Linked DNA regions of Homo sapiens. The protein of the gene in region 3 interacts with the protein of the main gene of each other region in a biochemical or structural test. Each region holds a gene or a part of one and is shown on either strand. Other genes may lie near its edges.

Region 1 (7,020 bases), on a different chromosome or scaffold from region 3:
AGAGGTCTTTCCTTGATAAAGCCCTATAGAATTTTCCCTAATATCTAACTACCCTCAAATGATAACTAAGGAGCCAGGGGCAGGTGGTGAGTTGGAATAAGATCTGGCTTTAGTGTTAGGCAGCCCTGTATTCAAATCCTGTCTCCACCTACTAGCTAGACTTACTAGCTCAATGACTGTAGAGCTACTTAACTGCCCTGAGCCTTAGTTTTCCCATTAGCAAAACGGGGCCCTAATAGTACTTGCCTCACACAGTTGCTTCAAGGATTAGCAAAAAAGATAGGCAACACCCCTGCGTGGTACTGCTACCACCCTGCAACACCCGCCCAGTCATCAGAGAGAATTGGGTGGAGCACCTCCTCTGGGCTGAACCCAACTCCCACAGCCCTGTGGTAACACCATCACCCACACGGCCACAGCTGAGGGGCCCTGACCACTATTTCTCTATTACAGCATCCTTCTGGATGAGGAGGGCCACATCAAACTCACTGGTGAGTGGAGGGCGCCTGCCCCCTCGGGACCCAGGGGAGGACAGGACAAGGTCATGATAGGTCTCGGCTGAGTGCTGGGGGCTCATTCTTCCCGAGAAGCCGTGCCAGTTACTTGGAAGTGGTCAAAAACTCAGGCCTCAGACTTGGAACACCCTCAGCTGGAATCCCAGCCCCTCATTGTGTAACGTTGAGCAAGTCACCTGACCTCTCTGGGCCTTAGCTTCCTCCTGAGTGTCATGGGGGTGATGCCTTCTGGCCTCTGGGCACGGGGGTTGGGTGTGCAAAGGGTGGCAGCAAGGAAGGCAGGGGTCCTAAGGTGTGTCCTCCTGCCCTCCTTGCTGTAGACTTTGGCCTGAGCAAAGAGGCCATTGACCACGAGAAGAAGGCCTATTCTTTCTGCGGGACAGTGGAGTACATGGCCCCTGAGGTCGTCAACCGCCAGGGCCACTCCCATAGTGCGGACTGGTGGTCCTATGGGGTGTTGATGGTGAGTGCCCAGACAGGGGTAAAGGATCCAGCCCAAGCCTCTGGCCTCAGTCTCCCTATCTGTACAGTGAGGGGGTTGATCATTTCTAGGGCTCTCCCCGTCTCCTCTCACAGCCAAGCTGGCCTCACCCTATATGCACCTGCAGTTTTCTTCCTTGGAAGGATCCCAGGCTTGACCCCACCTGGGACGCGCCTAACCCAGTGCTGGCCTTCTCCCCAGCCTCGCGCCCCCACCGCTGCTCCTGGTGGTCTGGTTGGCAGAGGCAAGAGGGACGGGCATAATTCTTGCTCCAGGCTGACTTGGATGTATCAGCAAGAATCCTGGGACTGGGGCAGAGGGGTCTGACTGGGAGGAGGCGGGAGGTGTGTCGGAGACAGGGATCAGAGCCTGAATAGATCCTTGTCCTCTGCAGTTTGAGATGCTGACGGGCTCCCTGCCCTTCCAGGGGAAGGACCGGAAGGAGACCATGACACTGATTCTGAAGTAAGCCCCAGCCCTGCCCTGATAACAATGGACTCCTCCAAGCCCCAGCCCCAGTTTGGGGGTCAGAATATTATTACCCTGTCCCTGCCTCAGCTACCCTCTCTAATGAGACTCTCCTCTGGGTTAAACATTATACCTTCCAGAGCCCCTCTTTCATCCCTGGGGGCCTGTGGGTAGGATCCCTGAAGCCTTTGGGAAGTGAATTAGTGGATGGCTTGTCTAGACTGAGCTGGGAACTAGATCTGGACAGGGGCCGGGGGAGATGGGGCCTCTGGGGCAGGGCTCAGCCTTGATGAGTCCCGGGGGCTGTTTCAGGGCGAAGCTAGGCATGCCCCAGTTTCTGAGCACTGAAGCCCAGAGCCTCTTGCGGGCCCTGTTCAAGCGGAATCCTGCCAACCGGCTCGGTAAGCAGCCCCAGCTCAGGGGAGGGGATGTGGCGATGGGGAGCCGGGTACAGCTGCAGCCTAGGCCACAGGGCCACATCTGGGCTGAAAGGGGCCGTTGTCCTTTGTGTGGGCAGACAATGCCGCGGGCCACCCTGCTTTCTGGCTCCATGTGTGGTGTTGTGGAGGGGGGAGTTGACCTGTGTGTAGGGGGAAGGCAGGAACTGAGTCATCCCTACTCCCTCTGGGGACAAGGACAGAGGCCCCCACACAGCTTCTCCGCCAAGGCTGCTGGCACAAGAGAAATAGCATGAGCTCAGGAGTCAGAAGGCATAGGTCCCAATCCCGGCTCTGTGTCAGGTCCCCACTGCCTGGCACAAAACAGTCCCTCTATAAATATTTGTTAAACGAATGAGGCCACTTATGAACTAAGTGACCCCAGGCAGGTGACTTCACCTCTCTGCACCGCAGGTTCCTCGTCTCAATGGGAGATGATGATCCCAAGCTTGCTTCAGGGCTCTGTTGATGAAATGAGGTTGTGTGAACATGCCGGCATGTAGTAGGTGTCCAGTGTGTGCTGGCTTCCCTGGCTCCTGGGTTCATCTGGTCCATGACCAGCTGTGTAAGGTCCAGTCAAGGCCCCTGGGGTCGAATGGAGTAACAGCCTGTCCTATGGTTGAAAAGGTCAATGGGATAAGAGGAACAGAGATGAGGCTTGCCTTGGAATGAGGTGGGGCTCTCTGTAGGTCTCAGAACAAGCTCAGCTTCTGTTCTAACTGTGTGGCCTTGGAGAAGTTGCCTAAAGTCTCTGGGCCTTCCTCCTCCCACTGGTACATTGGAATTTCTTCATCAGAAGCTCCAGAAAGTGGAAAATGCTGAGTAGGTGACAGGCCTTAGGGTGATGGCTGGGTAGATTTGAGGCTGAGTGAGCCCATTTTCCCCTCTGCTCCAGCAGCTGGTCCCAGAGCCCTGTGAGGCTGCTTGGTGGGCAGGGTAATATCTGGGACTTGTGCCAGCCAGGGACAGACCCTTCATTTGGGCTCTTTCAGGCTCCGGCCCTGATGGGGCAGAGGAAATCAAGCGGCATGTCTTCTACTCCACCATTGACTGGAATGTGAGTGTGTCCACCCACACCAGGGCTCTGGCCAGGGCTCAGCCATCTTGGCCACAGGAAGGGTGGTGGGAGGGGAGCCTCTGCCAGCGAGGGCCCCAGACGCAGGAGCAGAGGGTCACAGCCTGCCCTTGAAGACAAGGGCTGGCCTCCTGAGGGCAAGCAATTCCGAGAGCTGGGCAATATGGCCTATGTTCCAAGCCCAGCACCTCCTCCTGCATGGGGCTCCTGGTGGGCTGTTGAGGATGCCATGGTGACCAGAGTGCCCACCCCACTGTGCAGAAGCTATACCGTCGTGAGATCAAGCCACCCTTCAAGCCAGCAGTGGCTCAGCCTGATGACACCTTCTACTTTGACACCGAGTTCACGTCCCGCACACCCAAGGGTGCGTCCCTTATCTGTTTTGTCTGTCTTGGGCTGGTACAGGAGGGAAGCCGGGAGTCGGTGGCAGCTTGGGGGGCAGAGATAGTCAGGGACACTGACAGGCCGAGGTATGCGGGTGGGCAGGCGGGTGAGTTTCTGGCTCCGTGGGACTGACTTTGTCCCTGTCTCACTCCGCCCGACTCTCTCACTATGGGGCTCTGTGGGTCTCTTTGTGTCTGGTGAGAGAGTGGGAGTGGGGATGTGTGGGTGGTGAAGGCCACAGTAGAAAAGCCAGGACCCCTGCCCGGGGCACCTTCCAGCCCACTGGGAAGACCAAACACATCAGGCTTACCATCACGTCAGGGAGAAAGAATCTGACCCAGCCACACTGTGTGGTGGCTGAGCAGAGGTGACAGTGCCCATAGGTCAGGGACAGGCATGGGAATCAGCTTTGGCTGCCCTGACTGCCCGGCCTCCGTGTACTTATCTGGAACAAGGGCACAGCCACAAACCCACTCATTCCCTGGGGTTGCTACAAGAAGCCAGTGAGGGAGCTTCTGGGAAGGAACCTGGTGAATCCTAACTTTTTGGCCAGATATTGACAGTGGGTGTGGGGTGGAATGTTCTGGGAAACCTCCTATAAGGGCATGTTTTAGGAGAGGGTGTGCTTTTCTTCTCTCCTCTCCTCCCCTCCCCTCTCCTCCCCTCCCCTCCCCTCCCCTCCCCTCCCCTTCCCTCTCCTTCCCTTCCCTCTCCTCTCCTCTTTTCAAGATGGAGTCTCGCTCTGTTGCCCAGGCTGGAATGCAATGGCGTGATCTCAGCTTACTGCAACCTCCACCTCCTGGGTTCAAGAGATTCTCCTGCCTCAGCCTCCCGAGTAGCTGGGATTACAGGCATGTGTCAGCACGCCTGGCTAATTTTTGTATTTTTAGTAGAGACGGGGTTTCACCATGTTGGCCAGGCTGGTCTCGAACTCCTGACCTCAGGTGATCCACAAGGGGGTGCTTTTCTCACTGCACTTGCACGCCTCTGATGACAGAGACAGCACTTCTCCAAGCAGTCCGCTGGGCAACGTGACAAGTGCAGCTTCGTAGGAGTCAGGGGCCGGAGGAGCAGCATCAGGCAAGGCTTCTCAGAGGAGGGAGCGTGCGAGTTGAGTCTTGAAGGATAGGCAAGGAGTGGATTATCTAGTTAAAGGGAACAGTGTGTGCAAGGGCTCAGAGACCCCTCTAAGGATCTGAGAAGTCCAACATGGCTCAGCTGTGGTATGGAGAGAGAGGAGGTGAGGATCACAGGGCCCTCAATTGCCAGACTCAGGAGCTGGACTTACTCCTGAAGGCAGACGGGAACCTTTGAAAGGTGTGGGCAGGGTGGCAGATTTGTGGTTGGAACCTTCCCTCTGGCTGCTGTGCAGAGATGGACCTGAAGGGGCTGACGTAAGATGGGGAAGCTGGGGAGGAAGCATCCAGGAAGGGATGAACTGTCTTGGCCTGGGATGGAGGTGGATGTGAGAGTCTTTTTTGTTCCTCATGCGACAGGACTGGGCTGGTCTAATAAACACATATGAGCAGTTGGGCCAAGGCCTGTGATGGACAGGCCCTCTGCAGGCTCCCGCCACGGCCAGCCCCTGAGGCAGGTCTGGAGGCCCTGTGCTCCCCCTTTGCTGGGCTGCCTCAGGGTCGAGGGGACCTCCTCAGGTACCCTCACATTCTCCTTCCATCCGTACAGATTCCCCAGGCATCCCCCCCAGCGCTGGGGCCCATCAGCTGTTCCGGGGCTTCAGCTTCGTGGCCACCGGCCTGATGGAAGACGACGGCAAGCCTCGTGCCCCGCAGGCACCCCTGCACTCGGTGGTACAGGTGAGGGGGGCAGGGGGCTGCTGCTCCATTATCCTTTTCTAAAGAATGGCTGAGTACACAGGCTCTGAGTTGGACAGAACCAGGTTCATACCCTCATGCCACTGTGGGACCAGTAGGGCCTCCAACATAAAACAGGGACAGTAAGGCCCACCTCACACAGTGGCCCTGATAATTGGATGATGATATGGGTGTACATTTCCCAGCACAGAGCCAGGGTCTGGGTACATGTCAGGAGGTGCCCAGGGTGGTGGTGCCGAGTGACTGTCGTGTCTCCGGCATAAGTGTAGCGAAGGACTTGGATCTCATCACACTTGTTCCCCATTTGTACACTTCTACTGCTAATGAAAGTTTCAGGTTGAGAGGCAAGAATGTAGACTGTGGAGCTCATTGCATGGGTTCCAGATTCACAAGATAATGGACTTTGGGGTTTTTTGTTTGTTTGTTTTTGAGACGTAGTCTTGCTCTGTTGCCCAGGCTGGAGTGCAGTGGCACAATCTCAGCTCACTACAGCCTCCACCTCCCAGGTTCAAAAAATTCTCCTGCCTCAGTCTCCCGAATAGCTGGGACTACAGATATACACCACCACACCCAGCTAATTTTTTTTTTTTTTTTTTGTATTTTTAGTAGAGACGGGGTTTTACCATGTTGGCTAGGCTGGTGTCAAACTCCTGACCTCAAGTGATCCGCCCACCTCAGCCTCCCAAGGTGCTGAGATTACAGACATGAGCACCTGACCAGATAATGGACTTTGGATGAGATACTCCCTTCCTCGTGCCTCAGTTTCCTCATCTGTAAATGGGGGAAATGATAGAAGCTTCCTCCATAGAGCTGTTATGAGGATTATTAGAGTTAATACATGTAAAGTTCATGTGGGCTGGGCACGGTGGCTCATGCCTGTAATCCCAGCACTTTGGGAGGCCAAGAAGGGTGGATTGCTTGAGGCCAGGAATTTAAACAGACCCATCTGGCCAACATGGCGAAACCCCGTCTCTAAAAATACAAAAATCAGCTGGGCGTGTTGGCGCGTGCCTATAGTCCCAGCTACTTGGGAGGCAGAGGTTGCAGTGAGCTGAGAACGTACCACTGCACTCCAGCCTGGGCAACAGCGTAAGACTCTGTCTCAAAAAATAAATAAATAAAATAAAAAATAAAGTTAAGGTGACTATGTAATTTATTTTCCAAACTGGGACATCTTAGTCCAGGACAAATATTAAATCAGACTGGATGCAAGGACCGCATGCGCAAGCCAGGGCTGGCCGTGGGGCATGCAGTCACCTGATGAAAGTGCTTAGAATAGTGCCTGGCACACAGCACACACTAAGCACCATTCAGCATTGCTACGGCTAATGTCCCAGAACCTTGAGACACCCCATGAGTTGAGCTGTGACACCCCAGAAAGGGAGGCAGGCCACTCAAAGCCGTACTTAGTGGCACAGCTGGAACTCAGCTCAGGGCTCCTGCGTCCCTCCCAGGCCTGCCCAGACTTTTCAGAACTAAAGTCCTCTCCATGTGTGTTGTGACCCTGTTTCCCACTCCCTACACTGCCCTCTGACCACAGGCTGCAGTCCAGGCAGGCTGGGAGCCAGTGAGTATGCCCATTATATAGAGTAGAAAACTGAGGCCCAGAGAGGGGCAGGCTGTCACCTGCGGTCACATGGCCAACACTCTACCCCAAGTCTCCTGGCCCTTCCCTGGTGCTGTCTCTACTGAGCCAAGACCTTAGGTCCTGGGGGATGACCCCTAGCACTCTAGAGCCAGGGGTCAGCCACAATTTTTGGTCTCCTACAGCAACTCCATGGGAAGAACCTGGTTTTTAGTGACGGCTACGTGGTAAAGGAGACAA
Region 2 (7,195 bases), on a different chromosome or scaffold from region 3:
GACTTGCATGTCTCCTTTGGAAAATCTCTTACCTATGTCTCGTTTTATTTACTACGAATAGGTATGATATACATTTATCTCATGAGCCTACCTTGCTTTTGTAAAGTATTTTGAAATGTTTATGTGAAAATGTTGAATAGGTGGTAAGAATATGGATTATTGCTGTAAATTATAAGCAAGAGTGAAGATTGTAACTACTAAAACACTCAATTATGTCTCAAGTGTATAAAAATGAGAATATTTTAATAAATTAAATATCATATATTTATGAATCAAAGCTAAATGTTCATTAATATCAAGTAAATATCAGTAAACATGGGAGATATAAAAATGTATGAGACAATTCTGGCTCTCAGTGAGCTTACAATCTATAAGAGAAGAAAAGGGGAAAATATAAAAATTAAATAACAACATAAGAAGTATCAAAAGGCAACCTATTGTAAATTGCCACCTGAAATGAAATTGGCAGAGTCACTACTATAGGTCAGAGGAAGGAGAGATCATTTTCAGAAGCAGTGGGCAGAGAAGATAAAGAGTCCAGCCACATCTCCAAGGCTGAATTCGCTGGGAAGCAGGAGGAGGTTTTGGTGGAGGGAACCCAGTGAGAAAGTATAGATGTACAAAAGGAAGGAGTATGGATCCCCAAAAGGAAAAAGAATACAGAAATGCAAGTTATGGTGATAAGGAGAGTTCTAATATGAAATAGGGCTGGAAAGGCCATTTAGAATTGGACCGGGGAGAACTGTGAATGTTAAATTGAAGAGGTAAGGTTGCTGAACAGAAAAGCATCTTGGTCAAAGCAGCATTTTGGAAATACTCCTTTGGTTATGATATGCCAGATTAAATGGAGCAGGGAGGACCAGAGACAGGGAGATCAAATAGAACCCATGGCAAGTCCCGGTGTGGGGTGAAGGTGGGGGGATGGGAAAGGAAGAAGTTGAGATAGGAACTCTGTGGAAGAAGTGCACGACCTCTCAAGTGTGCTGATCAGCCCTCATTGTTGGAGCTTTCTGTCATTTTCCAAAGCATTGTGAAATATATGGGTTTTTAGAACTGACTCTCTTTAACAGTTGCCAAGTGAAGAATGAAGAAATGAAGGAGTTTTATTTAACTTACAATATCCGATACCTGTAAAAGTTGATACGTTGAACCTTTTCTTCTTGATCTTGTATCCTTACCTAAGAATAAAAAGTGTTAGGCTAAAAAAAAAGTTAAAAAAAAAAAACACCAATCATAAAATGTAGGAATTAAAGGAGTTCTGAGAACATTTTATTTTTATTAGACAACCAACTCTAGTTGAACATGTACTATTCCAAACTCTTCTGTCAGTAAAATTGAAGGAAATCCCCCAGAATTCCTGAGATCCCTGTACTGGTACTCCTGCTAGAATAACCTTCTGGTTTCGAGGGTTTATAATTTAATGTATTATACAGAAATTCGGAGAAACTTGATGTATCTCTGAATGAGCAGAGAAAAAAAGTTTCAGGAAAGTTTTCCAACAATTCCAATGTCACGATGTGTTTATATATATAATGATGATACGGCAAAGTTACTGGCAATCTGGCTTCTGCCCTGAACCTCTACGACCAAGTTCTGGCCTTATCGCACACAGAAAAGCAATGCCTTCCACCCTTCGGGGGCATTTAAGGTTGACACACTCTATTCCGGTAACACCACTTGACAGAAAGATGGCAAGGAAAAGCCTCTTCCCCACATTCCCTATGCCTCACCCTGCAGCTCAGCACTCAGAACTCCTTTCCTGGGCAGCGTCAATTTCAACTTCTTCCAATCCCTTGGCTATTTTGAGACTGCCCCTTGTGGGTCCAGAAGGAAGCCAGGAGGCCGGGGACAGTGGCTCATGCCTCTAATCCCAGCACTTTGGGAGGCCAAGGTGGGTGGATCACCTGAGGTCAGGAGTTCGAGACCAGCCTGACCAACATGGTAAAACGCCATCTCCACTAAAAATACAAAATTAGCCGTGTGTGGCGGCACACGCCTGTAATCCCAGCTACTTGACAGGCTGAGGCAGGAGAATCACTTGAACCCGGGAGGCAGAGGTTGCAGTGGGCCAAGATCACGCCACTGAACTCCAGCCTGGGCAACAAAAGTGAAACTCTGTCTCAAAAAAATAAAAAGAAAGAAGCCAGGAGTCTCAGGCTTTCAGTGACTTGGATAACTTGGGGTGTAGTCTCCTTCCTCCCCTTTCTAACGCCTCTTGTTTCCTGGCCACTCCTCCTCAACCTCCCCAAGTTGGAAAATCAGCTGATAAATCATGGGCAGGGGGTGAATAAACAAATCACTCCCCAGTTTTAACATACTGATGCTGAGGTTTGGGCCTAAAGCAAATTCATATGTTTGCATTTATGTAAGAGAAAGTGGTTAAAACTGCTTGATTTTATATAAACTTGAAAAACATTACTTTTTGCTTTTGACCTGGACAGCTGTGGAAGTCGGTCTCTCCTTGCAAGGTAAGGATATGAGCTTGGTCATATTGATGACCATCAACGAACATGATGTTCGTTACGGGCGCTGTTCTTATTCCAATGCTAGAAGGACCTGTGAGCATTATATAACATTTTCATGCACCCTTACATAAACAATTAGAAGCTGTTTACTCCTCAAGGACTCAATTAGAGATTTTTTTAATTTTTTTATTTTTTTTTTTATTTCAGGCCTGAGCTGAGGACACTACAGGAGCCAAATTAGAGAAGGGGCTTGCAGTCCTGCCATATTGCATATTCATGGCTTTCTTGTCCCCTCACCCCCAGTATAATCCTTTTTGCCAGGTTAACAACTCACTAATTTCAAAGCAATTCATTTGCCAACTCAAAAAAAAAAAAAAAAAAAACCACAGATACAACTTTAAATGCTTTTGGATTTTAATCCTCTGGAGTATTTATATGTTTTCTTGTCTCATCCCTTCAAAACTAATCTCAGAGTTTTGAGAATCTGGGAACTTGGGCAAAGGAGAAAACAAGCACGCAGACCAAGGAATCTGAAATCGCAGTTCATTACGTCAGCATAAACTGACAGTACCTTTTTGTTTGTATTGACCCAGCTCAAATTATAAAATCACATGAGTAATAAAACACAAAATACAGGTGTTATCATTGAAAAGTCTAAAATGTAATTAAACGCGTTTTTTCCCCCTCGCGGTGGTATCGTTTACTCTGTATCTCAACGTTTCTGTCTCCCTAAGCCTCTCCTTTCATATCATGAGCATACATTTTTGCATCATGCTCACACGTTCATTAGCTAGGACTGAGGAGTGTGTACGATTCCAAAGGGCCCTCAGCGTTAGCTGTTAGATGCACAAACCTTCGCTTCCTTTCCACATCTACTGCACTCGAGGTTCAACAGAGGATCCTTGCAAGAACAGCGCCCAGAGAGCATTCTTGACAGATGCGCGCTTGGCTCCAGCAACCCGCTCTGCTGGGAAGTTTCTTCTAACCACTAACACCCACCTCCAATCCCCCAAGCTGTCACGACGCATGCTGGCTGGGTCCCGTCTTGACGGGGGAAGGGTTTTACACACACCCTGCTAGGCTGCCCCACATCACAACCAAGCTCGCAGGGCAAACTCCTCCAAGCCTGGCGGACAAGCTGTCCCAGGCGCTCTGGCGCTTCCTGAACACCAAGGTCCCCTCCCCGCTCAAGGGAGCTAGCGCTCTGTTCCGCAGAGAACCCCGGAACTGCAGGTCGAGGGGATGCGGGGGGAGCGGGGGCGCAGGAGGGAGCCGAGTGCTGGAGGCAAACGGGGCGCAGGAGCGGGTGCGGGAGGCAAACGGGGCGCAGGAGCGGGTGCGGGAGGCAAACGGGGCGCAGGAGTGGGTGCGGGAGCGAGTGGGGGCTGAGGGAGGGGACGGGGCCCCGGGGGGAGCCAGGCGCGGAAGGGGGCGCGGGGGAACAGGGACCAGGAACCAGCGGGCGCAGGAAGGGGTGCGTCCGCAGGAACCCGCGGGCGCACGGGAGGCACTAGCTACGCGATCAGCTCGGGACTCTCAGGAGCCGCTCAATTGCCAACGGGAGGGGGGTGCGGGGAGTTGGAGGTGGGGGTGCAGACCAGACGGGGGCGTGCCTTTGCCCGGATTGGCTGCAGGAGCCTGACGCGAGGCCCCGGGGGTTGGCTTGGGGAGTGGGAGCGGGGTGGGGTGGGTGCTGGGTGCCGGAGCTGCGGGCCCGGCGCGCTCAGAAACATGCTGAAGTCCCGGCGGCTCTTCCAGCAGCGGCAGCGGCTCCAGCAGCAGCGGCGGCGGCGGCGGCGGCGGCAGCGGCAGCGACAGCGCTCGGCTCCTGCGGGAAAGGCGCCCGGCGCCCATGCCTCCGGCCCCGCGCCGCGGCTGCCCTGACCCGGCCGCGACCTCCCTCTGCGCACCACGCCGCCCGGGCTTCTGGGGTGTTCCCCAACCACGGCCCAGCCCTGCCACACCCCCCGCCCCCGGCCTCCGCAGCTCGGCATGGGCGCGGGGGTGCTCGTCCTGGGCGCCTCCGAGCCCGGTAACCTGTCGTCGGCCGCACCGCTCCCCGACGGCGCGGCCACCGCGGCGCGGCTGCTGGTGCCCGCGTCGCCGCCCGCCTCGTTGCTGCCTCCCGCCAGCGAAAGCCCCGAGCCGCTGTCTCAGCAGTGGACAGCGGGCATGGGTCTGCTGATGGCGCTCATCGTGCTGCTCATCGTGGCGGGCAATGTGCTGGTGATCGTGGCCATCGCCAAGACGCCGCGGCTGCAGACGCTCACCAACCTCTTCATCATGTCCCTGGCCAGCGCCGACCTGGTCATGGGGCTGCTGGTGGTGCCGTTCGGGGCCACCATCGTGGTGTGGGGCCGCTGGGAGTACGGCTCCTTCTTCTGCGAGCTGTGGACCTCAGTGGACGTGCTGTGCGTGACGGCCAGCATCGAGACCCTGTGTGTCATTGCCCTGGACCGCTACCTCGCCATCACCTCGCCCTTCCGCTACCAGAGCCTGCTGACGCGCGCGCGGGCGCGGGGCCTCGTGTGCACCGTGTGGGCCATCTCGGCCCTGGTGTCCTTCCTGCCCATCCTCATGCACTGGTGGCGGGCGGAGAGCGACGAGGCGCGCCGCTGCTACAACGACCCCAAGTGCTGCGACTTCGTCACCAACCGGGCCTACGCCATCGCCTCGTCCGTAGTCTCCTTCTACGTGCCCCTGTGCATCATGGCCTTCGTGTACCTGCGGGTGTTCCGCGAGGCCCAGAAGCAGGTGAAGAAGATCGACAGCTGCGAGCGCCGTTTCCTCGGCGGCCCAGCGCGGCCGCCCTCGCCCTCGCCCTCGCCCGTCCCCGCGCCCGCGCCGCCGCCCGGACCCCCGCGCCCCGCCGCCGCCGCCGCCACCGCCCCGCTGGCCAACGGGCGTGCGGGTAAGCGGCGGCCCTCGCGCCTCGTGGCCCTGCGCGAGCAGAAGGCGCTCAAGACGCTGGGCATCATCATGGGCGTCTTCACGCTCTGCTGGCTGCCCTTCTTCCTGGCCAACGTGGTGAAGGCCTTCCACCGCGAGCTGGTGCCCGACCGCCTCTTCGTCTTCTTCAACTGGCTGGGCTACGCCAACTCGGCCTTCAACCCCATCATCTACTGCCGCAGCCCCGACTTCCGCAAGGCCTTCCAGGGACTGCTCTGCTGCGCGCGCAGGGCTGCCCGCCGGCGCCACGCGACCCACGGAGACCGGCCGCGCGCCTCGGGCTGTCTGGCCCGGCCCGGACCCCCGCCATCGCCCGGGGCCGCCTCGGACGACGACGACGACGATGTCGTCGGGGCCACGCCGCCCGCGCGCCTGCTGGAGCCCTGGGCCGGCTGCAACGGCGGGGCGGCGGCGGACAGCGACTCGAGCCTGGACGAGCCGTGCCGCCCCGGCTTCGCCTCGGAATCCAAGGTGTAGGGCCCGGCGCGGGGCGCGGACTCCGGGCACGGCTTCCCAGGGGAACGAGGAGATCTGTGTTTACTTAAGACCGATAGCAGGTGAACTCGAAGCCCACAATCCTCGTCTGAATCATCCGAGGCAAAGAGAAAAGCCACGGACCGTTGCACAAAAAGGAAAGTTTGGGAAGGGATGGGAGAGTGGCTTGCTGATGTTCCTTGTTGTTTTTTTTTTCTTTTCTTTTCTTTCTTCTTCTTTTTTTTTTTTTTTTTTTTTTCTGTTTGTGGTCCGGCCTTCTTTTGTGTGTGCGTGTGATGCATCTTTAGATTTTTTTCCCCCACCAGGTGGTTTTTGACACTCTCTGAGAGGACCGGAGTGGAAGATGGGTGGGTTAGGGGAAGGGAGAAGCATTAGGAGGGGATTAAAATCGATCATCGTGGCTCCCATCCCTTTCCCGGGAACAGGAACACACTACCAGCCAGAGAGAGGAGAATGACAGTTTGTCAAGACATATTTCCTTTTGCTTTCCAGAGAAATTTCATTTTAATTTCTAAGTAATGATTTCTGCTGTTATGAAAGCAAAGAGAAAGGATGGAGGCAAAATAAAAAAAAATCACGTTTCAAGAAATGTTAAGCTCTTCTTGGAACAAGCCCCACCTTGCTTTCCTTGTGTAGGGCAAACCCGCTGTCCCCCGCGCGCCTGGGTGGTCAGGCTGAGGGATTTCTACCTCACACTGTGCATTTGCACAGCAGATAGAAAGACTTGTTTATATTAAACAGCTTATTTATGTATCAATATTAGTTGGAAGGACCAGGCGCAGAGCCTCTCTCTGTGACATGTGACTCTGTCAATTGAAGACAGGACATTAAAAGAGAGCGAGAGAGAGAAACAGTTCAGATTACTGCACATGTGGATAAAAACAAAAACAAAAAAAAGGAGTGGTTCAAAATGCCATTTTTGCACAGTGTTAGGAATTACAAAATCCACAGAAGATGTTACTTGCACAAAAAGAAATTAAATATTTTTTAAAGGGAGAGGGGCTGGGCAGATCTTAAATAAAATTCAAACTCTACTTCTGTTGTCTAGTATGTTATTGAGCTAATGATTCATTGGGAAAATACCTTTTTATACTCCTTTATCATGGTACTGTAACTGTATCCATATTATAAATATAATTATCTTAAGGATTTTTTATTTTTTTTTATGTCCAAGTGCCCACGTGAATTTGCTGGTGAAAGTTAGCACTTGTGTGTAAATTCTACTTCCTCTTGTGTGTTTTACCAAGTATTTATACTCTGGTGCAACTAACTACTGTGTGAGGAAT
Region 3 (7,675 bases):
AACACAAGCCATGAAATGGCCTAGTGAGAGAAGGAAAGTAAGCCGTTCAACTCTGGAAGAAGTAAAGGGTTGAAAGGAGAAGTGAAGACACAGGCCTGACCCTTAGGTAGGACCCCTGGCTCAGCTGTCCCAGTCCCCAGACATGGTGGGAGATTGACTCAAGTCAATGTACCTTACTGCCCTTACCTGAACATCATTACATTTCAATGTTGAAATTCCTGTTTTTAATTATATTCCAAGGGACCTAGAATAGATGGCATAAAGGGGCCTCCTTTCAGTTGTGTTAATCTTGGAGAACCCACATTAGCTTTGTTGCCCTGGGTTCCAATCTCAGAAGTACATGGAGAAATATGGCTGAACAGTTAAAAAGGGTGGAAAGGAGGATCCAAGCAAGATAAGGAGTTTGGACTTTGCTGTGTATTTCATGGGCGGCACTGGGGGGTTTTAAACACAGAAAAAAGGAGAGGTTTCAGAAAGGTCTCTCTGGCATCACAATAGAGATTTTTGAGGTAAAAGACAGGGAGAAAGAAAAACAAACAACAATAATCGTGGAGTAGTGATATTGACAGACTGAACTAAGAAACAGTGTGGATAAGAAACTTTATGCTCTACAGTACTGCAGTCAGCAGAATAATGGTCCCTCTAAAAAAGGTACCACAACTCTATCTCTTATTAGTAGTGTGATTTGGGGCAATTTAAAAGCCCTGATCCTCAGTTTCCTCATCTGTAAAAGAAAAAAAAAAAAGAATAGCAATGTCTTAAGTCAGGATCCCCAGGATCAAACCCTGAGATGAAGATTGTCTGCAAGTGATTTATTATAGAAATGCTACCAAGAAAAACTCATCAGGTACCACAGTAAGCAAGATAGGGAAGAAGGTGGTTTCAGGCAAAATATTAACATCAATATAATTCTATAGGGGAGCCTCAGGGTGTAAATTACACCTCAGGTTTTCTTGCTACTAGAGGCAAGACGGCTGGTCTTTTATACTCTATAGGAAAGTCCTTGGCAAAGGGTATCCTGGGAAAGAAGTAAACTTGCAGGTGGTTCTGTCTGGCTCTCTATGCCAGTACACAAAGTGAGTCTAGTAGTGTTTGGGCCTTCCTCCAAAGAGATTCTCGGGGCAGGCTGTGAGAAGTAAAAGAACACAGAAGCTAGAGGAAGGATACTCAGATTCAACCAAAGGGATCCTAGGAGATCTGGGTGGAGACTATGTCTGCCACAAGCATCTATCTCATAGAACTCTTCTAAGAACTGAATGCATTCATATCTTTCTTTCTTTGGCTTTTAGGATTCCTAAACTATTTTTCTTCTGGAATAGCATGCAATATTTAGCACTCTGCTCTACACTCAGAGTGCTCAGTGATGAAATAATTTTTTCTTGACATAGCATCAAATCCAAAAAGGGTAAAGGCAGTGGAGAAATTAAGCGAATATGAGGAATACCATAAGAGAAAGAAAAAAAATCTGATCCCAATTTCTGACTCCAAGGATAGTGCTTTCCTCAGGGTTCCACTTTTATCAGTTAAGATCCAGTCAAAGGGTATTGACTATTAGGACAGGAAAAAATCCCACTAAAGAATACAGTAATAGTGGTTATTGGGAACAGCCACTATCTCTCAGGCTCTAGGAGAGTACCCAAGGAGGGAATAACTGAGTAGAACTTCCCCCTACCCACCCTCCACCCTACTAAGCCTGAAAGTAGGCGCTCATTGGAAATAATATGGCTGTGGTCCACTTAATGATCCAGAAATTTAAGGTGTCACACACTGGGCTGCTGAGGAAACCATCAGCTGTGTTTTCAGTAAAACTTGCTAGGAAGCCATTCCACTGACATGCCAGTGGTACTCCATAGAAAGACACATACTAGGGAACTGGCCAAATTTACTGAAGATTATGTAACATGGCCTTCTTGCACACCACTGGTCAGAAAGTCACTCACTGGCCACCACACCGTAGGAGCAAGCAGGAAAGCACTGGAACCAAGAAAAGGAGCCCCTTTCTTTCTGCAGTGTTCCCCTAGCACCTTCTATTGACAAAGCTAAACACTGTGCCAACTGACCATAAAGACGTTTACAGATTTCAGCTCTAATGTCACAATTTAGGGCAAAGAAGGGTAGCTGTGAAGTTGAAGAGCACTAAGTTAACTGGCACTGACCTCAGTGACACTCCTGGGATTTGGGGGATGGGAGGAGCATGCTGTTATGCCCAAATCCTGCTCCGTTTGTTTACTTTTTTCCTAATTGTCTCTGAAAGAAAGAGCAGGCCCAATCTTTTGGGACACTATGTAGTGAGAACTGGTATGACACATCGTAAGTGCACAGAGAGTTCAATTCAGTAACTGAGACAAAGTCTAGAGCCGAACCACTTGGGTCTGAACGTTAGCTTCACTATTAACAAGATTTGTAGCCTTGCAAAAGTTCATCCTTGTATACCTCAGTTTCCTTACCTGTAAAAGGAGATAACAGTACCTATTTTATCAAAATGTCAGGAGAAATTAAGTATTATGTGTAAAGCCTATAAAACAACATCTTGCATGTAGTTAGAACCTAATAAATATTAGTATATTCCATGAATGGTAGCTTGTCATTTGGTTTTACAATATGTATATATTCGGTTCTCATGATGAGTTTCCATTTAGAACTATGCCTCATAATGCTAACACTCAACTTCTCTGGGTGAGATTAGGCTTTGCTATCAAGTCTTGCCTACTCCTGGGCATTGCCTGCAGCTCTGGCTTCAGATCCTGGCACTGCCCCTGGCTCACTGAATAAGCTTCAACTAGTGCAGCCAACTTACGGAGGATCTGTTTTCTCAAGTGAAAAAAAGACACAAGGTTAAACAAATCATCTTTTTTTAAGATCTCTTCCAGTTCTGACTACATTTGATCCCCCTCATCCCCAAGTAGTAAGTTATACCTAAGAGGGAAAGAGGAGGGAATTATCATTTCGAACTCCTACTCACCTGTGCCAGGAGAGCACTGCTGTGACTGATTTCCCTGATTTCATCCTCACCACAGTCCTAACAGATTAGTATTGTTAAAGTCCATTTAACAACTAAGAAAGCTGAGGCTCAGGAAGGTCAAGCAGTTTACTCAAGATCATATTCTCAGTAAGCCGCAGAGTCTGGATTGAAACCTGGTCTTTCTGTTTGGGTCGACTCAACATTTTTAACCGTATTGTTTGCCTCCTACATCGCCTTCATCTCAGACATTAAGAATCCTACCTATTCAATGCTTTTCATCCTCCGCTTTAAAGAGATAAGTGGGTGCACAACTTTTTTTTTGCCTGAAACATATCATCTAAAAGTTAAGCAAATGAAATTCATTTACCAGTTACAGGAATCTTTTTCTTAAATCACTGTTAATGTCTCACAGGAAATTAGCTCTTCAGTGGAAATCAGCAGCCTCCCTGCATCCTTTTGCCCCTGTCCTCCCCTCTCTTGGATGCAAACCTGGCGAAAAGAAGGGAACACTGCTTGGGGTCAGCGAGCTGAGTTCCAGCTCCGAATGTACCATTTTCACCCTCGGGAGTCTTCTCCCCTTTCTCTGTGAGCAAAGGAGTGTTGGGCCAGACCGTCTTAAGGATTCTTCCCCAGGTACAAGCCGGACTCTGGCGGCTTTCCTGGGCAAGGGAGTGTCTCCGCCTTGTCTCTGCCGCAGGTCCCTGGTTAAATTGTCAATTTCTCTGCGGAGGCTGCTCACTGCATCCGCTCCCTCCACCCCTAGCCCTGTAGACCCCTTCTCTTTCCCCTACTTGGGAAAAGTGAAGCCCCTTATCCTTGGATAGCCTTTCACCAGACAACCGCAGCCGTCCGCTAAATTCCCCTACTGGCGGGACGCGCGGGCGGGGGCCTGCCCCGGGGAATGCGAGGCTGCTTCCCTTCTGCGTAATCAGGGTACGCAGCCTCCAGTTCTCTAACTTTCTCCTTCTCTAAGAGGGAATTTCGAGAACTTTAAGACAAATAAGTGACTATATAGATGAAGACATGAAACCTCTCTACACAGTGAACTCCCCCACGCTACAAGGCTCCCAGGGATCCCAGGCCTTCTCCCGCAATGCCCCGCCGGGTCCCCCGCCCCAACTCCTTCTCACGGCAGGATCCCGCGCCAGGACGCTCGCAGAGCCCGAGATGTGGCACCAGGCGCGCCACAAGTCCAGGTCCCGCTATTTCTGCTCCATCGGAGCCCAGGTCGGAGGGAGTCAGCGCGTCCTCCTCGCACAGGAGCCTGGCGCGCGGCTCGGTCGCACAGAGGCTGAAGAAAGGTCCGCACTGGGCTCGAGGCCCTTCCTGCCGGCCTCCCCACGCCGGGCCTAGGCTCCCCTCCTTCCCGGCTCCCGCCTCCTCCCGTAGGCTGCCAGGCGGACCCAGCCTGCCTCTCTCTCTGCCTTCACTACCGGGTCAAGCTGCGGAGGGAGGGAGGGAGGCAGCGGCGAAGCCCTCCGTGGCTCCCCACCCGGCGCGCGCGCCCCTCCTCCCCTGCCTCCTCCCGTCTGCCAGTACAGTAGAACTAGTACACACACACACACACACACACACGCACACGCACCCTGCCACTGCAGCTGCCATGGATATCAGCTAACAACACACACCCAGGCGCGCGCGCGCGTTCCCACTCGCACCACGCAGGAGTGGCCCCCGGCATCCCTACCCTCCTTCCCCACCCCCACCACACCCGCTCACCAGCTCGGCTACTGCTCGCTCCGGCTGCCGCCGCCGCCGCCGCCGACGCCACCACCACTGCTTCCTCTGCTGCGGGGCCACAGCCTTGAGTGTCATTCAAGGGACAGCACAACCTCATCCAAGCTCTCCTACCTCTGCCCAGCCGTCCCTCTCATCCTCCCCATTCCTCGTCCACACTCCATCCAAAGAAGAGGGAAAGCACCGAATAGAGGGGGGCGAAGGCAAAGTCTGCTGTTCTTCCCCCTGGGCCCCCTTGCTCCTCCATCCTCATTCTCTCACCACCAGCCCCCCTAACCCCAAGGAGCCCAGGAACTGAGGCGACTCGCCCCACTGCCATGTCCAAAAGCTTGAAAAAGAAAAGCCACTGGACTAGCAAAGTCCATGAGAGTGTCATTGGCAGGAACCCGGAGGGCCAGCTGGGCTTTGAACTGAAGGGGGGCGCCGAGAATGGACAGTTCCCCTACCTGGGGGAGGTGAAGCCCGGCAAGGTGGCCTATGAGAGCGGCAGCAAATTGGTGTCGGAGGAGCTGCTGCTGGAGGTGAACGAGACCCCCGTGGCGGGGCTCACCATCAGGGACGTGCTGGCCGTGATCAAACACTGCAAGGACCCCCTCCGGCTCAAGTGTGTCAAGCAAGGTGAGAGCAGCGGCTTGCTCAGTGTTTTGCCGGGCGGTGGGACCGCTCGGGGCGCAGGGCAATGAAAGGGTGGCCGCGCATGTTGAAGGGGGTGTGTTGCGCGATGATGGGGTGGGGGCCAGAGAGCACCCGCAGTGCAAGTGAGTTTCGCCGGGGATTCGACTTGGGGGCTAAAGGGAGGGGAGGGGCAGGTTGTGGTGTGGCGTGCAACTTTGTTTGCTCAGTTAGACCCTCCCCTTTGGAAGGTGCTCGGCCTGGTCTGACCTCCTCAGAGCTGCTGGGGCAAATTGAATGTGCGTCAGTGGCATCACCCGAAGCGGATGAAGAGCTTTTGGGGAAGGGAGGAAGGAAGAAAAGAAAGAAAGAATGGGAGGAAGGGAGGGAAAGAAGGAAGGAGCAACTTCAGGGTGCAGCGGCATCACCAGCGGGTCTGGGAAGAGAAGGTGGTGGGGTGAGCGGAGAACTGCGTCCAGCGTTTCTGGGGCTGGGCTGGGGGCGCCTGGGTCCCCAGCTGTCCCTTAGGGATCCGTGAGCCACCGCTGGCGAAGAAAAGAAGGGACAAATTGCTTTGGGCGCTTTGACGGGTCTTCTGTAACTTTTCCCCTTCTTCACTCCGTGTCCCCCTCCCCCGCTCACGGTCGTGTCATGTGGGCATCGCGCGTCACGTGCGTACTGACTAACCCCTGCGCTCACCCCTAGCCAGCCCGGGGGAGGAGGCTCCGGAAGAAGGCGCGGTGCTAGGAGCGCAGTCTAGTGCTGGGCGGGGGTCGGAGGAGATGAATGGTTGTCGGAGGAGATGAATGGTTGTCCGCATGGACTTTACTCAGGGGTTGCCCTCATTGAGTGGAAGTCCTCTGTGGTTGGGCTCTCCTCTGGCTCCGATTTGGGGGGCGTGTTTTGGGGGAGGAGCTGGATGAAACCCTGGCCGGTTCCAGCCCAGGCTCCCTCAGCTCCAACCTGACTTAAATGAACCTCAATTGGAGGCTGTGATGTGGATTTGGGGAGATTGGAATCATCCAGAACTCCCTGTCTTTGCTCGAAAGAAAATTATGGTGCAGAAGGAGAGAAGAGTGAGATAAAAGTTTGAATAGAGGACAACTTTAAGTAGAATAAAGTAGTAGCTTTTTTCTTTTCTGTTTTCTTTTTTAGCTCACTGCACAATTCGTGTGCGGTATGTATGGATATTTGCGTCACAGGCATATTAGCATAAGGGTTTGTTGTTGTCGTCGATGTACACTGTTTGTCCTGACTCAAAGGTGGAATTGAGCATGTCATTACCTGCATTTTGCCGCTTAATCATGATCAACTACTAAGAAATGCTTTTACGGAGATGTACCGCACTGTTAAATTATTCTCTAAAAAACTTGTTTTAAAATAAACAAGATAAAAAGAAGTACTGGGCAAGGTTTCTTAAATGTAAATTGCCATACAAGAAAATGTTTTCCTTGGGTATTCTTGAGTATTAAGAGGTAATAAATTGAGATAGGTTATTATAAGTCAACATAGCTCCATACTATTTAACACTGAAGGGATATGAGTTTGGTAGGAAGGAAAATAGAGTAACTTGATATTTTTGAAGATAAGATACCTAAGGTTCAAATACAGAGATTCATGTTAACATGTTCGATGTCAAAATACCACCTTATAGGAATAGACATAAATGGAAAGATCTTTGGGTACGAAAAGTCTACTACACAACTAATGACCATGGTTTTGTTGGCCAAATGCTTGATATTTGTCATGGAACGTGGCTGCAAAAGTTAAGCGTTGTTAAATTGGACTTAATAGAGTCCCACAAACGGATGCCCTATTATAGTTTGCAATGATCATCACATCTTAAATGTTGTGTTCAATTCTGAGCACTCCTTGTTGAGGCGGACGTTGGCAAACTGTCACGCTAGCAAAGAGTAAGTTCAAAAGAGAAATAAAGGAAGATTATTGTGTATTATAGATGTATTCTATGAAATGCCGTGGAAAGACTTAACGTGGAGAAGTGAAAGAATGAAAGCTATCATTAAATAGCGAAAAGCTATCAGGTAAGAAAAGGAATTCTGACTATCCTGTGATAGCCCACAGGACAAAATGGTGATAAATCTATGAGAAATTTGAAAGGATGAAGCAGCTTTACTTTCATTAAATCATGAGCTTTCTAACAGAGTTTTCCAAAAATTTGTGAGCACCCTGTTGGCTGAAGTTCCCATCATTGTGGGTATCCATGAAGAGGCTGAAATGACCATATGCCAGGGATTCCTATATAAGATGAGGACCTGGATTAGATATTATTTGAATCTTGCCATAATTTGATCTAATGTGGTTGGAGATCACTCTTGTATTGAATTTTATGTGGAAGATTATTGC
Region 4 (7,020 bases), on a different chromosome or scaffold from region 3:
TTTCTGCGGCTCAGGTGAGAAGACCCCAGCACTGCCTCCTCCTGTCCCCAGGACCTAGAGCAGAAGCAGGGTGGAGAAGTGAGAGGAGCAGCTCTAGGTTGGGGTGGGGGTTGCTGGGAGAGGGTGGCAGGGGCTGGCTTATCTGAGAGTCTCAGGTCTCTGGGAACCTCTGGCAGAGCCGCTCTGCCCTCTCCCCAGTAGCTGCTGGAATGGTGGGGAGGGACAAAACTTGTCTTATGTCACCCATACCCAGGCCAGGCTGCACCCATTGGGGTGACCAGGCAGATGGAGCCCTGGAGGTGGGGGCTCCATGGAGTGGTGCCCCATTTCAGGTTCGAAGGTACCTGGGCCCCAGCACTACCGCCAAGGATGCAGGTGGCAGAGCCGGGGATGGGGATGGTTGGGATCAGGAGCCGAGCATCAGGGCTGGAGGCTGGGAGCAGGGCTGACCCCTGTGACTGTCCATCCTGGAATGGCAGGGAGTAGAAGGCACCCCCAGGGGAAGCGGGCATCGCCAGGAATCCAGCTGCCCTGGTCCATGGAGCACAGGCTCCATGGAGTGCCAGGCTCTGCCTGGGGCTTATGTCTGGGTGGGCTGCAGGCAGGAAGGGCTCCATGGGGCATTAGGAGAGCCTGGCTGTCACCTCCCTGTGTGACTTGGCCAGTCAGCCCCACCCTGTGCCTCAGTTTCCTCATCTACACATCTGGGCTGGGGTGATGGAGGTGGCCTACCCCTCATCCTCTCTCTCCTATCGCTCCCATCATCCACCCGCCCTGCTGCACCAGGAGCATCCGGTGCCTGCGAAACATCATCCACTGGAACCTCATCTCCGCCTTCATCCTGCGCAACGCCACCTGGTTCGTGGTCCAGCTAACCATGAGCCCCGAGGTCCACCAGAGCAACGTGGTACGTCCTGGCAGGGGAGCGGGGAGCAGGTCAGGCCAAACCCAGGTCAGAGGAGGGGCCCGCCTGCCCTGCAGAGGAGGAGCCCACAGAACAGGAGTGGGATCCCAGGGTATGCCCTGTCCTGCCCTGGGGAGGCCCAGGCCCAGGGTTTGGTGCCTCCCCTGCCCCCCATCATCATCTCTGGTTGGGGGTGGGGTGGCAGGGCTGGTGCAGGTTGGTGACAGCCGCCTACAACTACTTCCATGTGACCAACTTCTTCTGGATGTTCGGCGAGGGCTGCTACCTGCACACAGCCATCGTGCTCACCTACTCCACTGACCGGCTGCGCAAATGGATGTTCATCTGCATTGGCTGGGGTGAGCTGGGCAGCCACCTCCGCAGCCTGGGCAGTGGCGGCCGCCGGGCTGCCCTCTCCTCCAGACTCAGGCCAGCGGGCTGGGGGGCCTGAGGGATGGAGGTCGGGTTGGGGCGGTAAGGTGTGCACGATAGCCCTCTGCTCCTCTTGGGGGTGGGCGGCAGTAGAAGCACCTTGAAGGAGGTGTGTGAGTTTGAGATCCACCCTGAGTAACCCCAGACCCCCTGGAGCCTGGGCTGCACTGGGGTTCTCCAGGCCCACATCCTCCAGCCCCCGCTGAGGGCTCTGTGACAGCCCATCTCTCCCCCAGGTGTGCCCTTCCCCATCATTGTGGCCTGGGCCATTGGGAAGCTGTACTACGACAATGAGAAGTAAGTCATCTCCTTTCCCTTCCTGACCCCAAGGTTTAGGCTCCCAGCCCAGCTTGGTGACACTCCCCACGGGCATTGGCCATGCTGGCTTTTTCCCCTCAGGACCATGGTTTCTGCATCTATAAAGGGAGAGATCTGGGGGCTGGACTCATTCAGAGGGTCCCTGCCTGTGCTCTGCCTGGGTGGGGCTGGACAAGCAGGACCCAGCCTCCTTTATCTGCCTTGAGCTTACACAGGAAGCAGCCTGGAGCCAGACTGCCCAGGTTCAAATAGCTGTGTGACCTTGGACAGATTACTGCAGTGTGCCTCAGTTTCCTCATCTGTAAAATGGACATGCTACTGCCTCAAAGGGCTGTTGTGGGGTGATATGAGTCCATCTATATTAAGCATTTACAATAGCTCCTGGCACATAGAGTAAATGCTATATAAATGTGTTCTATTAATATTAAGACATCTTAATAAAAGAGTCCATGAATTTAATAGAAGTGGACCTAGATGATCTCAGAGGCTTCTTCCAGCTCTGAAGTTCTTTGGTTCCTTATGAAATGGACTCAGATGTTTCCAATCGTGCCTGGAAACTTGATTTCTGCTGCAGTGGAGCTCAACTTTGGCTCACATTAGAATCACCTGGAATGCTTGGAAAAGTACCAATGCCCAGGCTTCACCCTCAGAGAATCAGGCGCAATTGGTCTGGGGTGTGGCCTGGCACCCAGAAGTCTTGAAAACTGCCCAGGTGATTCTAATGTGCAGCTCAGATTGAGAACCACTGAGAGAGAGCGGGGCAGAAAAGGTGGACATGGATGGCAGGGGAGCCCCAGGACCTTCTTTGCCAAACAAGTGTTCCCGGGAACCTATCTGACTGACGGACCTGGCGTCCAAGTGGCCTCCACCACAGTGACAAGCCCTCTCCTCCCCCATGGAGGGGAGGGGGCCTGCACGGCTTCATTGGGCTGAAAGAGGAGCCTGGAAGATTATCTTGCGTGTTTATGTGGTTGACTCCCTCCTGACTCCCTCCTGACTCAGGCTGGCTGAGGCCTTGGGAAGCCGAGGCAGGCGGATCACTTGAGGTCAGGAGTTTGAGACCAGCCTGGCTAACATGGTGAAACCCCGTATCTACTAAAAAAAAAACAAAAAAACAAAAATTAGCTGGGTGTGGTGGTGCGCACCTGTAGTCCAGCTACTCGGGAAGGCTGAGGCAGGAGAATCTCTTGAACCCAGGAGGCAGAGGTTGCAGTGAGCCAAGATCGTGCCACTGCACTCCAGCCTGGGCAACAGAGTGAGACTCCATGAGTCTCAAAAAACAAAGCAAAACAAAAACTGTTTGGGCTAAAGGAGAAAGTGAGTCTGAGCGGCTCTGAAGCTCCACCTGGTGGTGAGAATTCAACACTGCAACAGAGAGGATCTGGGTGTGAGAAACCAGAAACGAACTTGCAGACCAGAGGCCCGAGGACTGGACCCGGCCCTCAGAAGCTGTGTGTGGCCAGCATGGTGTTTTCTGAAAACTCGATTTTGTAGCCAACCTTTAAAAAATCCAAAGGTTTCATTTACAAATCTCAATTTCTGGCTTATGAGATCTAGCCACTGGGGGTCTTCATACCCACGAGGACATAAGGGCTTCCAGTTTGTCTGGTCCCCACCCACTCCCCAGGCCTCCCTGGAGCTTGCTGGAGGGACACTCGGGAAAATGCAAAGCAATTACCTCCTGCAGCAGGTAGAACCTGTGCAAGTATTCCTCTCAAGGTTGTTCAGGCTGTGACTGGACAGATTCAGGCTGAGATTGCGAACTGCTGGGTGCCCACTGGGTGACAGGTGTGGTGCCACTCCCACCAGCAGCCCCCCAGAGGGCATGCTGGGCCTCAGCCACTGCCAGGGGACTGTGAGGAGGAGCCGAGGATGCAGCCTCGTGTTGGGCCCATGCCCGTTCCCAGCCACTCAGTCTTTCCCACTGTCTACCTCCTGCCCCGGTGCTTGCTTCCAACTTTGCATCTCATCACAGAGGATGCTGTCCGTTCTGCAGATGGGACAATTGAGGCATGGCAGTGGGATCAAGTGACTTGACCTTCTGCCAGGGTTGGAATTGGGACATCTACCTCTTGGCCTCCAGCCCCAGTCCTGTCCTGGCCAAGCACTGTCCCTCCCCATGCCATCGAGGTGGACGCAGATGACCCTTCCTCCCCTTTCCTCTGTGGCCTTCTAGGTGCTGGTTTGGCAAAAGGCCTGGGGTGTACACCGACTACATCTACCAGGGCCCCATGATCCTGGTCCTGCTGGTAAGAACCTGGGTAGGGGCAGGAGACAGGGCCCAGTGGGGAGGGGCAATCAGTGCCAACCGTGGACAGAAAGGACTCCTCTACCTAGAGGTGGGGGCCACCCAAAGAGGGGGCATGGGTCAGAGATGTGCAGGTGCTCATGAGGAGGAGGGAGAACAGCAGGGGCACTGAGGCCAGAGCTGAGAAGCCTGGGTCCCAAGCCTCTTGCACACTCCGGCCCGCTGGTGTGCTCAAATTGCAGATCAATTTCATCTTCCTTTTCAACATCGTCCGCATCCTCATGACCAAGCTCCGGGCATCCACCACGTCTGAGACCATTCAGTACAGGTAACCGGGTACCACCTTCCTCAGGCCTCCCCCTGATGAAACCCCTGCTCCCCATGCCTCTCACGTGCCAGAGACCTGCCACTCCCTCCCCCGACCTGGCCCTCTTTGCCGAGCCAGCGGGCAGCCCGTCCTGGGGTGGGCTGTGACTCCGAGCCTCCCCACCCGCCCCACCCCAGGAAGGCTGTGAAAGCCACTCTGGTGCTGCTGCCCCTCCTGGGCATCACCTACATGCTGTTCTTCGTCAATCCCGGGGAGGATGAGGTCTCCCGGGTCGTCTTCATCTACTTCAACTCCTTCCTGGAATCCTTCCAGGTACAGCCCTGGAGGGACACATCAGCACCTCCTTGGGTGGGGATTCTGCCAAGCAGAGGCCTGGAGGGCAGGAGGCCAGGGAGAAGCAAGGGGCAGCCCAGAGGCTGGGTGGGCAACACCTGCAGCCGACCTTTGACGCCTCCTCTCTCCTCCCCAGGGCTTCTTTGTGTCTGTGTTCTACTGTTTCCTCAATAGTGAGGTGAGGACCCGGGGGCCCTGCAGCGGGGTTCAGGGCTGTGAGGCCTGTTGGGACTGGCGATTGTCTAGAGCCTTCTCCTCCCCTCCCAGGGCTGCCTCTCTCCCTCCCTGCTCCTAGGTCCCTAGGGGTATGCTGCTGGGAGCCCCAGGGTGGCCCCTCCCACCTGTCCACTCCCACAGTGACAGCCCCCTCCTTTGCTCTCAGAGGCCGCTGGCACCAGGCTGGAAGCCAGAGCTCCAGTATCTTTGATGAGCCTGTGAAAACCAGGAAGGGCTGAGCCCTGGGCAGGGGATACATGTGGGTTGAGGGCAGGGAGCCTTCATGGCAAAGGGCATATGGTGCCTTCGTGTGGGTTAGAAAAGGGTGCCCCTTCCCCAGGACATTTGAGAAACCTGTTCCGACAAATATGCAAAGCAGTCGTGTTAAGGCTGTGAGTGTCATCCCCTACTGAGGACTTCCATGTACTCAGCTGACCTGCACAGCCGCTTACCTGCACAGCTGCTCGTGGCGGCCCAGGGGAGGGAGGGGGTCCTGAGCCACAGGCTCAGATGTCGTGCTCCTCCCTGTGCCCACAGGTCCGTTCTGCCATCCGGAAGAGGTGGCACCGGTGGCAGGACAAGCACTCGATCCGTGCCCGAGTGGCCCGTGCCATGTCCATCCCCACCTCCCCAACCCGTGTCAGCTTTCACAGCATCAAGCAGTCCACAGCAGTCTGAGCTGGCAGGTCATGGAGCAGCCCCCAAAGAGCTGTGGCTGGGGGGATGACGGCCAGGCTCCCTGACCACCCTGCCTGTGGAGGTGACCTGTTAGGTCTCATGCCCACTCCCCCAGGAGCAGCTGGCACTGACAGCCTGGGGGGGCCGCTCTCCCCCTGCAGCCGTGCAGGACTCTAGCTCATGAGTGGAAAGTCACCTACAGGACTGGGCCGGGCCCAGGGCCTCTGGCTTCCCTGCCCAATCCTCCCTGGAGAAGGGACATGGGAATGAATTGAAATGGGGCGCTGGACACCTACAGCAGCACGCATGTCCCTCCAAGGCTGTCTTCTCCCAGAGCACAAGAAGGCCAGCCCACTGGGCCCTGGGGCTGCCCTCGGCAACCGTGGGGAGGCCATTTGCTGCCCTGGGGCATCATGGGCAACTCGTGACAGCCTCTGACTCACCACGATGACGCCTCTGGACCTCGGTGATGCCTTCCGACACCACTGGGAACCAAGGGCCCTCACTCAGGAACCCTGGAGACAGAAGTCAGGTGTCATCATCAGACTTGCGGCCACAGCACTAGAGTCACCCCCCCAGGCCTCCAGAACCTTACTGGCACTGTGGCACTGCCACCAGCAATGCCCTGCCTTGCTGCCTTCACCCTGAACATTTAGTACCCTGCAGGCCAGGCCAGCTTCCCCTCACTTAACCACCCCATACCAGTCACCTCCTGCTCCTTTTCCTCTTTTGTGAGAAGATGGGGGCTGGAGGGGGCAGAGTGGCCTGTGAGCAAGAGCCAGGGGTGTCCCAGTCCCAGCCTCTGGGGCAGAGCTTGTAGCCCTGGATGGCCTCTGGGGCAGGACCACTAGCTAAGCAAGCCAGGAGAAGACCCCTGCCCAAGTGGCTCTTGGGACAACGTGCTGCTTACACTCCAGGTGTGGACCGGCCGCAGCCCCCACTGACCTGCCCATGTCCAGAGGGACTGGACAGCCAGGGCAGGGCTTTGGGGGGCACTAGAAGATGAGGGTGTCGGCTGTGAGGCGGGTGGCTGGTATAAATAATATTTATCTTTTCAACCAGCATTTGTGAAGGCCTGGACTCCACAGGGGGCTGGATGGAGAGGGTGTCTCACAGAGGTGGGGGCTGCTTCCCAGCTTTCAGGGGCTGCTGTGTTGCTGAGAAACCTGACCCCACTCTCACCCCGGCAAGGATGGTGCCAGGAGAGCCCCTGAGGGCCGGGAGAGGGGTGAGGGCAGGAGGGAGGGCTTCGAGGAACAGGTGGGTCTGGCCAGGGCCCCCTTAGTTAGGGACAGCTTGTTGTGAGGAGGTGAATTAGAGGGAGAGGAGGGCCACGGTTAGGGATGCAGAGGAGGGACACCATGGGTCAGGGGAAGGAACAAAGGAGACGGGAGTGTGTCCCAGCCCCAGGCAGGAGCTGTGCTGATTGGTGGGAAGCAGAATTAGGATGCTGGGCCACTGGACAGGCTGTGAATGCAGCTGTCTCCACTAGGGCCGCCACAAGAAGCCATCCCTGAGACCCTGAGGTTTCTTGTGCAAACTCGAGGGAAGGGGAGTACAGAG

Evidence for each region.
Region 1: the proteins of MAGI2 (region 3) and RPS6KA1 interact in a test that uses a peptide from one of them, tested with the Homo sapiens proteins (2 studies listed by BioGRID and IntAct, with this or other methods).
Region 2: the proteins of MAGI2 (region 3) and ADRB1 interact in a test that uses a peptide from one of them, tested with the Homo sapiens proteins (4 studies listed by IntAct, with this or other methods).
Region 4: the proteins of MAGI2 (region 3) and CRHR1 form a complex in vitro, tested with the Homo sapiens proteins (2 studies listed by BioGRID and IntAct, with this or other methods).

Annotation. Positions count from the first base shown.
Region 1 is NC_000001.11:26,553,761-26,560,780, forward strand, and holds part of RPS6KA1 (ribosomal protein S6 kinase alpha-1), read left to right. Parts: intron 1-453; coding exon 454-491; intron 492-781; exon of another isoform or gene 782-833; intron 834-835; coding exon 836-978; intron 979-1,390; coding exon 1,391-1,461; intron 1,462-1,776; coding exon 1,777-1,865; intron 1,866-2,893; coding exon 2,894-2,958; intron 2,959-3,237; coding exon 3,238-3,340; intron 3,341-5,046; coding exon 5,047-5,177; intron 5,178-6,965; coding exon 6,966-7,020. UniProt on the Homo sapiens protein: Serine/threonine-protein kinase that acts downstream of ERK (MAPK1/ERK2 and MAPK3/ERK1) signaling and mediates mitogenic and stress-induced activation of the transcription factors CREB1, ETV1/ER81 and NR4A1/NUR77, regulates translation through RPS6 and EIF4B phosphorylation, and mediates cellular proliferation, survival, and differentiation by modulating mTOR signaling and repressing pro-apoptotic function of BAD and DAPK1.
Region 2 is NC_000010.11:114,039,676-114,046,870, forward strand, and holds the start of ADRB1 (beta-1 adrenergic receptor), read left to right. Parts: upstream 1-4,190; 5' UTR 4,191-4,457; coding exon 4,458-5,891; 3' UTR 5,892-7,195. UniProt on the Homo sapiens protein: Beta-adrenergic receptors mediate the catecholamine-induced activation of adenylate cyclase through the action of G proteins. This receptor binds epinephrine and norepinephrine with approximately equal affinity.
Region 3 is NC_000007.14:79,450,662-79,458,336, reverse strand, and holds the start of MAGI2 (membrane-associated guanylate kinase, WW and PDZ domain-containing protein 2), read left to right. Parts: upstream 1-4,669; 5' UTR 4,670-5,016; coding exon 5,017-5,317; exon of another isoform or gene 5,318-5,380; intron 5,381-7,675. UniProt on the Homo sapiens protein: Seems to act as a scaffold molecule at synaptic junctions by assembling neurotransmitter receptors and cell adhesion proteins. Plays a role in nerve growth factor (NGF)-induced recruitment of RAPGEF2 to late endosomes and neurite outgrowth.
Region 4 is NC_000017.11:45,829,308-45,836,327, forward strand, and holds the end of CRHR1 (corticotropin-releasing factor receptor 1 isoform 2 precursor), read left to right. Parts: coding exon 1-14; intron 15-253; coding exon of another isoform or gene 254-340; intron 341-786; coding exon 787-907; intron 908-1,109; coding exon 1,110-1,263; intron 1,264-1,572; coding exon 1,573-1,633; intron 1,634-3,830; coding exon 3,831-3,903; intron 3,904-4,144; coding exon 4,145-4,230; intron 4,231-4,406; coding exon 4,407-4,542; intron 4,543-4,699; coding exon 4,700-4,741; intron 4,742-5,316; coding exon 5,317-5,457; coding exon of another isoform or gene 5,458-5,506; 3' UTR 5,507-6,521; downstream 6,522-7,020. Other genes in the region: LINC02210-CRHR1 (CRHR1-IT1-CRHR1 protein), read left to right, coding at 1-14, 787-907, 1,110-1,263, 1,573-1,633, 3,831-3,903, 4,145-4,230, 4,700-4,741, 5,317-5,506.